Linked DNA regions of Homo sapiens. The protein of the gene in region 1 purifies or fractionates together with the protein of each later gene. This does not show direct contact. Each region holds a gene or a part of one and is shown on either strand. Other genes may lie near its edges.

Region 1 (3,500 bases):
CAGTACTCATTGTTTTATGAGGGCCTGCCTGTGTGCCAGGCGGGAAGACACTGACCAGAGGCCCAGGGCCACTGAGGGGTCTTGGCCTGGTCTCTTGGTGCCTGGGGGGTACACTGTGCAAGCAATGATGTAGTTCCAAGGGGCAGGACTCTGACCCACACTCCTGGTGCCAATGTCCGTTTTGCCACTCATGTTAGATTTTGCTTCTCTAAGTGAACTTACTCAGGATAGCTGGGTTCTTGGCCATTCTTCCAGTGGTTTTCAAGGGTGAAAAAAGGAGTTTCAGCAAGACAGCTAACGTCTGGATGAACGTGCCAGGAAATGTCTGTAGCCTTCCTCTAGAGAGCACTCTGGGCTGGTGGGCGTGAGGACCCCAGGGCAGGCTGGCTCAGCCCCTTTGACTTCAGATTTCAGGGAAGGCCAGGGAGCTGGATTGGGCGCCTGGATTTTCCGAGAATTATGTTTCTGAGAGGATTTTGAAACCTAAACAGGAATACTTTACACACAGGTCATCGAGCAGGAATCGGGAAGTTCCTAAGCTGCCCTCCTTCACGCCACCTCCTCCCTTCAGAGACCAAGGGCTGCCAAGCTGTCTCCCACACACCTCAGTGAAAAGTCCCTGGCTCTCCTCCCAGCCGCCTCGCTGTGACCTCGTGAGGTGTGAGAAGGAGGAAGGGGATCTACATTCTGGATGAACCTTCCTTCCTCCTTGCCGAGAAATAGTTTAGGCCCCTGCGCCTGCTGGGCCTCAGAGCTTCTCAGAGCCCAGGGCTGAGTGTGGCTCCTGCAAGCTGCCTGGGAATTCCATGGAGTCTGACTGGCTGCCTGTCTTATTCACAGTCTGCTGCAACCCCTTTCCTAAGCTTGGGTGGCTGAAAACAACAGAAATTCATCCTCTCACAGTTCTGGAGGCCACAGTCTGAATCCAGGTGTTGGCAGGGCTGTGCTGCCTTTGAAGGTTCTAGGGAAGAATCCTTCCTGGCCTTTTCCAGCTTTGGGTGGTGGCCGGCAACGCTCGGCATTCCTTGGCTTCAGGTGCATCATTCCAGCTGCAGATGGCTGTCTTCCCTCTGTGTCTCTTCTTTTCTTCTTATAAGGACACCGGTTATATGGTGTTAAGGGCCCACCTTACTCCAGTATGTCACCAACTTAATTCATTACATCTGCAACCACCCTATTTCCAAATGTCACATTCTGGGGTTCCTGATGAACGTGAATTTGAGGGGACATCATTCAACCCACAGCAGAGCCCCACCATCGCCTCCCTGCACCACGCCCTTGGAGCAGGCCCCTTCTCTACGCAGGGCACCCTGCCTGTCTTTCCTCTCCAGCAGCAAGACAGAGCCAAGAGTGATTTCTTGAAATGAAATTGCATCCTCTCATTCCAATAAGGCATGGCCTCACTAGTGGGAGATGAGCAAATGAAAGCCTCCCTCAGGATGGGCATCCACACATCCAGGGGACACTCACCCCGATTTTTTTCCTGGTTTATAAAGGTGCTTCAGGACTCCTTGGCTCCTGGCCAATATCTTAGTGCTTCCTGAAGGGGAAAGAGCCCTCCAAACCATTCAGTGGGCCATCCCAGACCGAGGTTTCTGACCCAGACATTGAAACAGGAGGAGTTCCCTTATCCCCCCTTGCAGGGCACGTGACAGGGGCATGGCTCGCTTCTCAGTACCCTGCTGCTCAAACCCCTAGAGGGGGCATGCAGATGGACAGGTCGTGGGGAGCGTTTTTGGGCTCCGACCCCACAGCAGCTTGTAGAATTGGGTGTTTACAGCTCCCGAAGCCCCAGTGGGCATGTGTTACAGTGGTCTCCTTCAGTTTTGCCATCTGCAGGCGGCTTGTGTTAATCAGCTCAATTAGACCCTCTGCCTTATCACAAAGACAGATGGCTTTCTGTATCCCAGGTTCTTGCCCTAGTGTACTCGGAAAATCAGATTTCGCATGGACTTGGAGAAGGAGTGCAAGGTTTTATTGAGTGGAGGAGGTGGCTCTCGGATGGGGAGCCAGAAGGGGGATGGAGTGGGAAGGTGGTCTTCCCCTAGAGTTGGGCTGCCCAGCAGCCAGACTCTCCTCCGACCGCCCCCGACTGATTTCCACATCGCCCCGCTGTCGAAAGCCCGCCAGCATCTGCTGGTGTCTGTCAGTGTGCTCTTCTGCTTCTCTGCTCCTCTCGACGTCCAGCCACTTGTGTGTGTGCCCACTAGGGTCTTGGGTTTTTTATGGGCACAGGATGGGGGTCATGGCAGGCCAGAGTAGTCTTGGAAAATGCAACATTTGGACATGAAAACAGGAGTGCCTGTTCTCACTAAGGTCCATGGGCACAAGCCCATGGGTGGAGCCCTCGCCAGGGACCCCACCCTTCTCTACCCAGCACTCCCCTGCCCCCCTTCCATGTCAACATGAAAGCTGACATTGGCTCCTGTGCCCCACCTCTGGGCCTGGTTTGGTGACCTCTGCACCAGAGCTGCTAGGGAGGCCCCATCCCACATGTTGTTGATTGAACAGCCCTTCCCCAGGGGAACCAACGTCCTCCTGTCCCCAAACCCATGGAGGAGTGGTGGGTTCCTGGGCCTCTAGTAACTCGACTGAATATTTTCCAGGTTACCTAACCAAACTCCTGCAAAACCACACCACCTATGCCTGTGATGGGGACTATTTGAATCTACAGTGCCCTCGGCATTCTACGATAAGTGTCCAATCGGCATTTTATGGGCAAGATTACCAAATGTGTAGTTCCCAGAAGCCTGCCTCCCAGAGGGAAGACAGCTTAACCTGTGTGGCAGCCACCACCTTCCAGGTATTGCCTTTTGTAGACATGTTAAGATGATACAGTTTCAACACACACTCTTTCTCTCTCTCTGGGTATAAATATATTTGTGATTATATAGTTCAATCCAAGCAAAACTGATCCATGAAAAATCCCAATTTATACAGATCACCAGTTTTGTAGGTGAGCTATTATTTGCTTCTCAAAGGATTTGTTGCCCAACAAAACTAAATAGAATTCCTACCTATTGTAGAGCCCCCTTTGTACACTTCAATATGAATTTATTTGTAGGTTTACTCCTTACTTTAGTATAGCAAAGTACAACCAGGATGGATTCCAACCTCCAGGCCCACATCTCCCATAAATACTCCTGTAGAAAGGGAAGGTAGGTTCTTTAATGGAAACCACAAGTATCTCTTTGAGGCAGACATCTGAAGTCATGACCAACTTTTTAGAAAATGTACTCAAAGGGCTGGGCGCGGTGGCTCATGCCTGTAATCCCAGCACTTTGGGAGGCCGAGGTGGGTGGATCATGAGGTCAGGAGTTCAAGACCAGCCTGGCCAATATGGTGAAACCCCATCTCTACTAATAATACAAAAATTAGCCGGGCATGGTGGCACGCACCTGTAGTCCCAGCTACTTGGGAGGCTGAGGCAGAAGAATCGCTTGAACCCAGGAGGCGGAGGTTGCAGTAAGCTGAGATCATGCCACTGCACTCTAGCCTGG
Region 2 (3,500 bases), on another chromosome or scaffold:
TAATCCCAGCACTTTGGGAGGCTGAGGTGGGCAGATCCCTTGAGGTCAGGAGTTTGAGACCAGCCTGGGCAACATGGAGAAACCCCTCTCTACTAAAAACACAAAAATTAGCCAAGTGTGGTGGTGTGCCCCTGTGGTCCCAGCTACTCTGGAAGCTGAGGTGGGAGAATTGCTTGAGCCGAGATCATGCCACTGCACTCCAGACTCCAGCCTGGGTGACAGAGTGAGACCCCATCTCAAAAAAAAAAAAAAAAAAAAGAAAGAAAAAAAGTTGTAGTAAATAACTTAGTTTCTACCTTTTAAAAAGATCCTGTTTTTCAATTTGAGTCCAGAATAAATCTTAAAAATTTTTGAATCCAGGCCAGGCTCGGTGGCTCATGCCTGTAATCCCAGCACTTTGGGAGGCCGAAGCGGAAGGATCACCTGACGTCAGGAGTTCGAGACCAGCCTGGCCAACATGGTGAAACCTCATCTCTACTAAAAATACAAACGAAAATTAGCCGGGTGTGGTGGCACGCGCCTGTAGTCCCAGCTACTTGGGAGGCTGAGGCAGGAGAATCGCTTGAACCTGGGAGGCAGAGGTTACAGTGAGCCGAAGTCATGCCGCTGCACTCCAGCCTGGGCAACAAGAGCGGAACACTGCCTCAAAAGAAAAAAAAACTTGAATCCATATGTAGTCTTCCTACTTGGAGGAGGCAGCGAGAAAAAGAAAAAGAAGGAAAAAGAAAAAAAAATTTTTTTTGAATCCAGGCTGGGCATGGTGGCTCATGCCTATAATCACAGAGCTTTGGGAGGCCAAGGTAGGAGGATTGCTTGAGGCCAGGAGTTCGAGACCAGCCTGGGCAACATAGTGAGTTCCCCCATCTCTACCAAAAATGAGAAATTTAGTGCTGTAACAAATGAGCACCAAGTTAAGTTTTAAAAAAAAAAAGAAATTCCTGGGCGTGGTGGCTCACGCCTATAATCCCAGCACTTTGGGAGGCCGAGGCGGGTAGATTCCCTGAGGTCAGGAGTTCGAGACCAGCCTGGCCAACATGGTGAAACCCTGTCTCTACTAAAAATACAAAAATTAGCTGAACGTGGTGGCGGGCAACTGTAATCCCAGCTACTCGGGAGGCTGAGGCAGGAGAATTGCTTGAATCCGGGAGGCAGAGGTTGCAGTGAGCTGCAATCATACCATTGCACTGCAGCCTGGGTGACAAGAGCGAAACTCTGTCTAAAAAAAAAATTAAGGCCGGGCACGGTGGCTCATGCCTGTAATGCTAGCATCTCAGCACTTTGGTAGGCTGAGGCGGGAGGATCACTTGAGGTCAGGAGTTTGAGACCAGCCTGGTCAACATGATGAAACCCCATCTCTACTAAAAATACAAAAATTAGCTGGGTGTGATGGCAGGTGGCTGTAATTCCAGCTACTCAGGAGGCTGAGAATCGCTTGAACCCGGGAGATCAAGATTGCAGTAAGCTGAGATCGTGCCACTCCAACCTGGGTGACAGAGTGAGACTCGATCTCTAAATAAATAAATAAATCTCTATTTCAAAATAAATAAATAAATAAGTAAAATAAAATAAAATAAATAAATTAGTCATGTGTGGTAGCCTGTGCCTGTAGTCCTAGCTACTTGGGAGGCTGAGGTGGGAGGATCCACTTGAGCCCAGGAGTTTGAGGCTGCAGTGAGCTATGATTATGCACCACACTCCAGCCTAGGTGAAAGAGTGACACCCCCCTCTATAAAAAAAGAAAAAAAAATTGGATCAAATTAGAGATTTTTTTCTCCAAAAAAAAAAAAAAAAGGCTCCACAGAATTTAACTTTTATTTTTCTTCTGTTCTGTTAGTGCATTTTCTTTTTTCTTTTTTTTTTTTTTTTTGAGATGGAGTCTCGCTCTGTCACCCAGGCTGGAGTGCAGTGGCGCTATCTCGGCTCACTGCAAGCTCCGCCTCCCGGGTTCAGGCCATTCTCCTGCCTCAGCCTCCCGAGTAGCTGGGACTGCATTCGCCCGCCACCACGCCTGGCTAATTTTTTGTATTTTTAGTAGAGACGGGGTTTCACCGTGTTAGCCAGGATGGTCTCGATCTCCTGACCTTGTGATCCGCCGGCCTCGGCCTCCCAAAGTGCTGGGATTACAGGCATGAGCCACCGCGCCCGGCCTGTTAGTGCATTTTCTTAAAGGGCATGCTGCAAGTTCATCTACTCAGTGAAATTCTCAGTGGAAGCTGAAGGGCTATGCTATATCAGCGTGAAGCAGTTTATAGAGTTGGGTGATCCTGACTGCTCTTGAAGGGGAAGCATTTATTGCTCCCTGCCTCTTGTGAGAATGAGCTTGAGAATGTTCAACTGTTGATGTGCAGCTCTCTCTTTTGGCCAGAAGATGTCAGGGTAACACAAAGATTAAAAAAAAAGAAAAAACTTAATTTTAAACTACAAAAGATCTTATATGATCTGTGACCAAAATAATACTCAGTTTCTCAAGTGATGGTCTGGAAATAGTATTTTGGAAGCTCACAAGGAGATTATTTGATCTTTACCTTTCCAAAATCTGCCTTTCAAATTTTTGTTAAACATGTGAGCCGTAATCATAATCTATTTCTGAACACTTGGACCTTTAGAATCACAGGTGATATCACGTTTATGTGGCTCATGTGAAAACCCAGAAAATCAAACGGAATGGAGCAGGTACTTACCTTATTTCTATTTTTTAAAATATTTTTTCTTATTTGCAAAAAAAAAAAAAGATAAATCTATGGAGATGTAGGATGTAGGACTTACAGATAACAGTACTGATAATATTAACTTCAGCCTGATATATTTTGTTATTTTCCAGAGAAGAAAAAAAATTATTTACCTTTGGGTGGAGATGGGAGAAAGGGCTTTGCTTTCCTACCAAGTGAAAATATTTACCTGATTAATCTGTTCTCCTTCCTTAGATCCAAATACATATATATATATATAATTTTTTTTTTGAGAGTCTTGCTCTGTTGTCCAGGCTGGAGTGCAGTGGTATGAACTCAGCTAACTGCAACCTCTGCCTCCCAGGTTCAACTGATTCTCCTGCCTCAGCCTCTCCAGGCTAGACTACAGGCACGCACCACCACACACAGCTAATTTTTATATTTTTAGTAGAGACGAGGCTTCACCATGTTGGCCAGGCTGGTCTCGAACTCCTAACCTCAGGTGATCCGCTCCCCTTGGCCTCCCATAGTGCTGGCATTACAGGCATGAGCCACTGCGCCCGGCCTAATAATATTTGAGTTCAAAATGTATTTGGGCCAGGTGCAGTGGCTCACGCCTGTAACACCAGCACTTTGGGAGGTCGAGGCAGGCAGATCACCTGATGTCAGGAGTCCAAGACAGGCCTGGCCAACATGGTGAAACCCTGTCTGTACTAAAAATACAAAAAAAAAAAAAAAAAATTAGCTGGGCATGACTGGGGTGGTGGTGGGCGCCTATAATCCCAGCTACTCAGGAGGCTGAGGCAGGAGAATTGCTTGAACCTGGGAGGT

Evidence for each region.
Region 2: the proteins of EVA1C (region 1) and TMEM192 purify together in Homo sapiens (affinity purification with mass spectrometry; 4 studies listed by BioGRID and IntAct, with this or other methods). This does not show direct contact.

Annotation. Positions count from the first base shown.
Region 1 is NC_000021.9:32,450,706-32,454,205, forward strand, and holds part of EVA1C (protein eva-1 homolog C isoform 1 precursor), read left to right. Parts: intron 1-508; exon of another isoform or gene 509-658; intron 659-2,606; coding exon 2,607-2,803; intron 2,804-2,810; exon of another isoform or gene 2,811-3,500. UniProt on the Homo sapiens protein: Binds heparin.
Region 2 is NC_000004.12:165,095,861-165,099,360, reverse strand, and holds part of TMEM192 (transmembrane protein 192), read left to right. Parts: intron 1-3,500.